Regions from separate parts of the Homo sapiens genome. Here regions 1 and 3 are each linked to region 2. The links come from fine-mapping of genetic effects on gene expression. A gene starts in region 2. Each other region holds a variant in brackets. All regions are shown on one strand. Distances are between the middles of the regions.

Region 1 (2,849 bases), 780 kb before region 2:
AGCATAATGTGCTTTTCATAAAGCTAAAAACAAGTCAAGAAAATAATTTTCAGGACTAAAATATATTAGAACAAATTATATTGAAAGGAAAGCAAAGATGAGTTGTATGCTGGAGCCTACTTTATCAGCTCATGGGAGCTGACTGTATACATTTTTCCCAACTCCAGTTTTAGTGACATCATTTTGTTAGCTTGAAATTGGCCATAGTGAGGGTATTTACACTACAGAAATTAGCAAACACAGCAAATTACGGTTTGCTTTATTTTCCTCCAGACTTAGCTGTCAACCCTTTACCCTTTACCAACACACTACTGGCAGGGAATAATAATGACCCAAGTTCAGGATTTTTATAAGGCTGGGGCATGGCAGGAAATAGAATGAGAGAGAACTATATGGCTATACATTGAAATATTATCAAGGTCTATCTTGCATAATGTTGAGGAGGAGAAGTTTTACAAGTTCCTATTATGTTTTTTAAAAATATTCATTGACAAGCAATGCCTGTGTGTTATGAACCACAGGTTAAGATAAATAAAATTGAATGCATATAGCATCAAAAAGAAGAGAAAACAAATAAATGAATAGATTAGAGTTCTTACAAGAAAAGGATCAAGGGCATTTTATAGTCAAAACCAGGAGTGAAATAGCAGTGGCTTAACTGCTACCATCCTCATATAGATATCGGCTGCTGAATTAATCACAGCGGACAACCTACCACCCAACAGACCTGGACCCTTGTCAACCCTTTGCAACACAGAACAGGGGTTTAGACAATAAGGGTGAACGTGAAAGCGTGGAGATGACACCTGGCCCCTGACCAAGGTGGAACTGACTGGAACAAGATGGGAGCCAATTCTGCAGTGAACACGCTGCTGCTTTTCGTCTCCGCTATGACCGTGTGTTGCTGGTGGTTAAATACCCCACCTGGGTTCAGTCACCTCAGACTGTGCCATTGCCACTGATCTCAGGACCCACTTTAGTTGTAGCCTTTTACTCTGTTAGCGTTTTCAGCCTGGAGAACAGAGCTAGTAAAATACTTATAAAATATTCCACTGCTTCACTAACGGCATGGAAAAGACAAGAGCTTTTAAGGCTCTGGCATGAAACAGGGAGACAGTGGTTACATTCCTATTTCACGCAGTCACTATTTCCGTCTACGTTAAGCTGAGGAGTGTAGTGTTTCGGTGACATTTAGCATGGAACGCTGCTGGGTTCAGACCTGACATTCCCAAACCAGCTGACTGTCAAGGACACAGCCTACTGCCTACCTATATTACCTTAGGAAACGAGACAACAGCATTGAACAGCATTCAGTCCATATTTGTGTTCTGTCTTCCTTGGACAAGTACCAACAAAATAAAATCCTATCACATTTCCTGTAAATTTTGAATGACATAAATTTTTGATTAGCAATTCTTTTTGAAGTGTTGAACTTTTTGTTCTGATTTTATATTCTACTCTCTGTGCTTTGTTGTATTTAAAATCAAGTTCACCTTTCAGAGGCAGTGATGGGTGAGGTAAGAGACAGACTCTTACATCCTCCTCCCCAACACACACACACACACACACA[T/C]ACACACACACACACACACACACACGGAGGCACTGTTTTTCCCAGTAATGGAGAAGCCATGGGAAGAATTTCAGAGGTTTCAAGGGAGCTAGGGTCGTCTAATTCCTCTATATCCTTGGATATCCCCATTCTTAATGTCAAAAATAATCTCTCGAACTGGTTTCCCAGAGTCTCAACCCATTTGCTATAGTACATGCACCATCTCAGGTGTCCAAAGATGAATATTTGATAAGCTACTTCTCAACTTCATACCTCTGCTGCTGTTTTTCCATTCTGGAATGTGGAAAGCAGTGTGACTCCTATTAACTGACCAGTAGTCAATTTTAACTACCCATAAATATGTGAGTGTCTTTTATCTGTAATCTCCTATCTGGTGCCATTTTTGAAAACCAGTTAAGACTCTTTTATCCTAAAAAATGAACTATGTCTAATTTCTTGAAAGTAATTATTGATGAAATACTCCCTGGAGAGTCTGAAGCCCCTGATATTGCATATTTAATTGTTATCCTCCTTTTAATAAAAGGTATAGGAAGAAATTTTAAATATTATTCCTAAATACCTTACATCAAGATGAGCTAGAGTTAATTAAGTGGGACGAGGGATAATGAATTCAAGGGCATTTAAGAAAGATTAAAGAACCAGTGCAAAATGTTTTAATCAGGAAAGAAATTAGTGTGTTTAATGACAGGAAAGAAGTCAGCAGAGTGACAGGAGCAGGGGGAGGAGGTGGTTGAGTACAGGGCAAAATTGAAGAAGGCAGGAAGGCACCAGACCACTCAGAACCTTACTGGTCAAGGTAAATGATACAGAATCCAACATAAAGCTTAATAGGAGACACTGAGGTTTTCAACATTTGACTTCTTTAGTAATCAGATTCGTGGCTGTGTGTGTATCTGTGTATTTAATCACCCTGGTCACAAAGTGAAGAAATAATGGACCATGCAGGGAAGGCAAAATGTTACCTCTACCCTCTTGCAGTTTTTCGGCTGGTCCTGAGAATGGAAGATTAACAGGAAGGAAAGCATACACATGTATTTAATACAAGTTTTACATCACATGAAAGCCCCCATAATTAAAGGAAGAACTGAATGTGCAGTTAGAGTTGAACATTCATATATTGAATTGGGCAAAGGGTCATACATTGTGGAAAGGTGAAAAAGTAAAGGGGCTTAGGCTAGGGTTGCTGGTTGAATGGCAAAGTGACTAGGAAGGTGAGGATTAGTTTAACAAGCTTTTTTTGTTACAGATTCCTTGGCCTCAACATCATCCCATTCTATCT
Region 2 (2,500 bases):
ACCTGATTACAGCCGATGGAACAGAAGTATAGGTGACAACATGTTACTTGTGATTGTTGTCTAGAGGAGGGCAGTCTTGTGGGGCTGAGCCCTCAACCTGAGGCTATCTCCAGGTAGATAGTGTAAGAACTGAATAAGATTAGAGGACACTCAGCTACTGTCCACTGAAGAATCTGCCAGAGAGAACTGACTGCAGGCGGGAGGAATCCCTACACGCATTTTGGTGACCACAGGTCACCGAAGTGATTTGTGTTGAGAGTGCAGTAGGAAAAAACTGAGTTTGGTTTTTTGTACATCATAAGAGCTGCTCTCTGCATTTGAGTCTGAATATGCTCTCTCAGACCCACCTCACAACCTGTTCACTGAGTCTTAGGAACATCCAAGGAAGGAAGGGAACTGGAACAAGCTCTGACACTTTCAAACAGCTGGAATGCATGGTGTGCACGCAGTCAGCCTGAGGAGGTGTGGAGGATGAGCTAAGGGCTCAGAAACCTTTAGGGGAGCAGCTTTTAACTTCGGAGGAGTCAAAGACCCTTTGAAGAATTTGATGAAAGCTTTGGCTGGTCTCTCCAGAAAAAAAAATGCCCGCTTACATATACAGAATTTAGAGTACACTTTCATGGGGTTTCCCCACCCCCTGAAACCTATCAATGCAACTTCATTGGGATGAATGGATCTCAGATTGAGGATGCTTTTCTGCCTTTTCTATCCCTCCCCAAGCAAAGCACTGGTCTCAGCCTTCAACCATCCCCAGCATGGTGCATTCTCTCCCCGGGTATGTGAGCTCCTCTCCCCCTCACAAGTATCAGCTTGTATTCACAATATTCCCAAGTATTCACTGGAGGAGCCAGGCCATTCAAGCGTTCATCTTGAGGTGAAGTCTGACCCCCCCACCCCTTGTCCCATTGAGGAGGCTCTGACTCAGCCTCCTCTCCCCCTCCCTGAGGAGACACTTCCAGTTTTTCCTGCTCTTTTCTCTGTTCCTCCACCCACCTCTCCACCCCATTTCCCACTGGCCTTCAGGAGTTTTCCAAGATCCTTCCCTCTTCCGACACTTACCCCATCTTTTGGGGGATCCAGCAGCCAGCCCAGCTCTCCCTGTGCCTTGCTTGTGTCCATCAGAGTAACTGAAAGTGGGGAGAAAAGAAGTCTGTCACCTCTGGGGGAGGAGGTGCCCCTGCAGCCCACATTAATCATTCTGGGGCCTCAGCCCCAGGCTGCAACATCCTGTTCCTAAAAGCTGTGACTTCCTGAGGCTTAGGGGAGAAAAAGGGCTCAGGACTGAGGAGTGAAGAGCTCCAGGGATTTCACTCTTCTTTGTGTGTGTGAAGGAAGGCAGGTAGAGTGGGACAAGGGTTGGGGCGCTGGGTCTTTGACCAAAGTCAATGCAAGAAGAGCAGCCCCACGAGACGCTCAGTTACCCAGGCTGCTGCGTCCTGGGACACCCATCAGCTGCAGGATTGGAACGCGTGGAGGGCAGGAGGAGCTCACCTCTGCTAGCCAGGAGTGGGCAGGGTGGACCGGGGACCTCAGAAGGGGTTTCCTGGGTAGGGAGGCTCACCTCCACTGTCCGAAGCCTGCTTTGGCCTGACCTGGCCAGTGATCAGAGCCGTGAAGTGGGGATAAGAGGCACAGCTACCTGCCTGGGAAGTGGGGGGGAGTAAGGCCGGAGAGGGTGTTCCAACTTTCACATGGAATATTCGACTCGGACAACTGGGAACCCCTGTGGCGTCAGTCCTAACCCTTCTCCCGGAGGCAGCTCCCTCTGTCCCTGGCCTAGGTTGGCAGGAGGCGACTTCCCACCTTCAACTTCCAAGGGCTCAGATCTCTGGGGTGGGCACCTGAAGCTGGGACTGTCTGGGAATGCAGGCAGGGGTGCGGGTGCAGGTGCTACTTCCTGGCAAGGGTCCGGAATTCCCTCCCCACTCCCAGGAGCAGATTGCTGGCCTGCGGGAGTGGGGGTGACTGACCCGGGAGAGCAGCCGCTTGGGGTTAAAGACCAAAGATGGGCCTGGCCAGTCGATAGCCTGGCGGTCGGGCACAGCGAGAGAGCTGGCGAGGGTCTCGGGGAACATGGCCCCTAGGAATGCCGGCTTCTGCAGGGGGGTGCTGGCCGGGCCCCGGGAAGGGGCGGGGCGCGGGGGTTGGGGGCGCGGGGGCGGGGGTCGGTACCTTCCTTGGCGCGCGCCCCCGGGGGCAGCGGGGCGCAGAGCAGCAGCACCAGCCCTAGCCCCAGGGGCCAGCGCCGCTCCATAGCTCCGGGCCGGGACCTGGGACAGTGGCCCGGATGGCAGCGCCAGGTTGCAAGGGACTAGGAGAGCCGGGCGGGCCGGGCGGGGGCGGGGGGCGGGGCCAGCGCCGGGGGCGGAGTCCCGGCCTCACCTGGTTCACCTCCTTAAAGGGACAGTAGGGCAGGAAAGAAACTTGCTAGACTGGTAATCAAATTCAAGAACCGGAGGCGTCTTGACCCGAATGAGACTGCGGGCGCCGCCTAGTAGGT
Region 3 (2,849 bases), 24 kb after region 2:
GAAAAAAAATCAGGAGAAAAATTATTATTTGAGAAATGGAAATCTTGGATTAGGATTTTTTTTGCAAGATGATTAAGCCATTTTAGAAACATGACTCATATTGTCTTCTGCCCTTTCTTCCTCTAAGTAATTATGAAGAACACATACTTGGAAGATTTTAATAAAATTATGAGTAATATTAGATCACTTTAATTCCTGTTTACGGAGGACAGCAGTCAAGTACCTAACTGTGAGAGGAAAATGAATCTTTGCTTCTAGGAGGCACCATGATTTACGAAAACCAAAGAGGGCCAATTTGACTGTTTTTACTTGTACCCCTCTCCTTCTTGACTTTTCTCATTTTTTCTTAAGATTTTGTCAAAGTGATATATGCATCTAGACCAAAGAGCCAGGTATTTCTGCTTAAAGGGACATTTCTTTGTTTGTTTTTTTAAAAATAGAGGCTTTCGTTTCCATCCTCTTCCAATTCCTGTTTCCCAAGGCAACTACTTTCAACTCTTTTACCTGGTGTGTGTGTGTGTGTGTGTGTGTGTGTGTGTATGTGTGTGTGCATGTGCACGTGTATGTGCATGTGTGTGTGTGTGTGTGTGCTTTCCGCTATGGAATATGAACCTTTAGTTCTTCCTCACCCTCATTCCCCTGGCAAACACCTTCTGTCTCCCACTTTTCAATATAGTTTTATTGTAATGGTAAAATCAATATTTAGTGTTTAAAATATTATGCCAATGCAAATGCTATTCATGGTGAAACCATGTATTAAACTGCAATTAATTTTTCTTTCCTGTACACATTTTTGTTTCCATTGATTTAACAATTACCTTGTTTTGTTTGCTTTTTGTTCTCAATTCCATCATCAAGTATCCTCAAATTTTATTTGCCTGAGAAAATTTCTCCTGGGGCTTCATATCCTGCTCCAGTCTGGACTTATGCTCAGGCCTGATGTACCTCCCTCCATCCTGGGTCTGCCTTTACAGTCCTCCTGGTGGCCTCCTCCGCCTGTCTCTCACCTTTCACCTCATGTTGCCTGGACTCATGTCTTCCTTTATCATGCCTACTCTCCCGCTTTGGAGGGACACATTTTCCAGTATCCTCCAGAAAAAGAGAACATAAAAAATTAACTTTATTTGGAGACTTTGCTTGCCTGAAAAGCCTTTATTTTGTCCTTGTACTTGAGTATCCAGATAGAGAATTCCAAGGTAGAGATAATTTTCCTTCTGTATATTGAAGACATTGCTCTGTTGCCTTCTAGCTTCCAAAATTACTATGGAAAAGTCTAAAATAAAATTCCTAATATTATATTTTGAATTTAGTATTTTTCCTCTCCTTTTCCTCTCTAAAAGCTTGTAGGAACTTCTCTTTGTGCTCAGTTTTCTAAAAGTGTATGAAATGAGACAGATACTTGGTGAGTCTTTCTAATA[T/C]GAAGAGTCGCGTCCTTTAGCTTTGGGAACTTTGCATCTATTTTGTTGATTTTTTTCCCACCATTTATGACATCTCTCTGTTTAGAACTCCTATTTCTTGGTTATTAGACATCCCAGATTGGCATTCTGTTTTGTTTTTAACCTATGGGTTTATTTGCTCTCTTTTCTGAGATATTTAATAAATTTTAGCTTTCAGCTCTTCTATTGACATTTAATCTCAGATATTGTCATTTTAATTCCAAGAACTTTCTTTTAAAAAATTTTGAGTATTTCTTTTAAACAGTAACCTGTTGTTTTGTATGTTATTATTATATTCTCATAACTCTGAGAATACTGATATCATTTTGGCAAAGCTTTCTTCTCCTTGCATTGTTTTCTTCCTCCAAATACCTGTTTTGTTTTGGTCTTATTTTCCATGCTAGGTGCCATTCTCAGATGTCCCAAGCTCCTCGTTGTCTGCTCCTGTGCAAAAGAGATGGAAAGGCTGATTGGAAACTCTGAACTCATGAATGGGACTTGTTAATTATGGGCTTCACTGTAAAGTGATTGGCTGGACTAATTATTTGAGGAATATCTGATATTGTCTTTATGTCTTCCTTTTAGAATGTTTGAGTTCTTGGAAAAGACGATACTCATCTGCCTGTAGGGTAAAAGCCTGGGTTCCGGAGTTCTAAAAACCATGTGAGAGGAGAGCATTTGCTCACCTAATGTCCCTGTCTCAGTATAGTACCCTTGTCTCAACTGTGCTATAGATACATCCAGCTCAGTGATCCCATTTTATCCTTTCCAGACAATACTAGGGTGAGAGAGTGGTGGTTGCCCAGGTATACAAAGTGATTTGGGAATCTGAATCTTAAACTGACTTTTAACTAGTTTTTCTCTAGAGGAACCTGGTATGGCAAATCTTGGGTAAAAGTCGGTTCATTCTTGACTTTTCCTTCTGCTTGGATAGAATTCTGTTTTCTTAGGGCTGTTGTATCTTTGATCACTCTTCTATCTATTTTATTTGGATTTATGCCTTAATTTCAATTTTTTTTTTTTTTTTTTTTTTTTTTTTTTTTTTTGAGATGGAGTCTCTCTGTAGGCCAGGCTGGAATGCAGTGGCGTGATCTCGGCTCACTGCAACCTCCACCTCCCGGGTTCCGGTTCAAGCAATTCTCCTGCCTCAGCCTCCCGAGTAGCTAGGATTACAGGCACATGCCATCATGCCCAGCTGATTTTTTTTTGTATTTTTAGTAGAGACGGGATTTCACTATGTTGGCCAGGCTGGTCTTGAACACCTGACCTTGTGATCTGCCCGCCTTGCCCTCCCAAAGTGTTGGGATTACAGGGGTGAGCCACTGCACTTGGCCTCAAAAATCTTTCACAGTTAATTTAGAAGAGTTTTGGGGAGCAAAGGAAAGAAGGTGGGTTGATGCAATCTGTCCTTAC

The links. PIP is the estimated chance that this variant, and not a neighbour inherited with it, causes the effect.
Region 1: its variant is fine-mapped to the expression of EPHA1-AS1 in neutrophils (BLUEPRINT, PIP 0.95).
Region 3: its variant is fine-mapped to the expression of EPHA1-AS1 in whole blood (TOPMed, PIP 0.90).

The regions. Positions count from the first base shown.
Region 1 is chr7:142,628,905-142,631,753 of GRCh38, forward strand. It overlaps TRB. Among named protein-coding and RNA genes, the nearest start is that of PRSS1, 120 kb to the right of the region's middle. The variant T/C (reference allele first, on the strand shown) is at 1,571.
Region 2 is chr7:143,406,552-143,409,051 of GRCh38, forward strand. EPHA1-AS1 (EPHA1 antisense RNA 1) reads left to right here and starts at 1,262. Exons shown (of 5, transcript NR_033897.1): 1 at 1,262-1,335. It overlaps EPHA1 (EPH receptor A1), which reads right to left and starts at 2,305. Exons shown (of 18, transcript NM_005232.5): 1 at 2,173-2,305; 2 at 1,060-1,127. The coding sequence starts at 2,254. RefSeq lists an enhancer at 2,377-2,500.
Region 3 is chr7:143,430,345-143,433,193 of GRCh38, forward strand. All of the region lies in intron 2 of EPHA1-AS1 (EPHA1 antisense RNA 1), which reads left to right. Among named protein-coding and RNA genes, the nearest start is that of TAS2R60, 12 kb to the right of the region's middle. The variant T/C (reference allele first, on the strand shown) is at 1,419.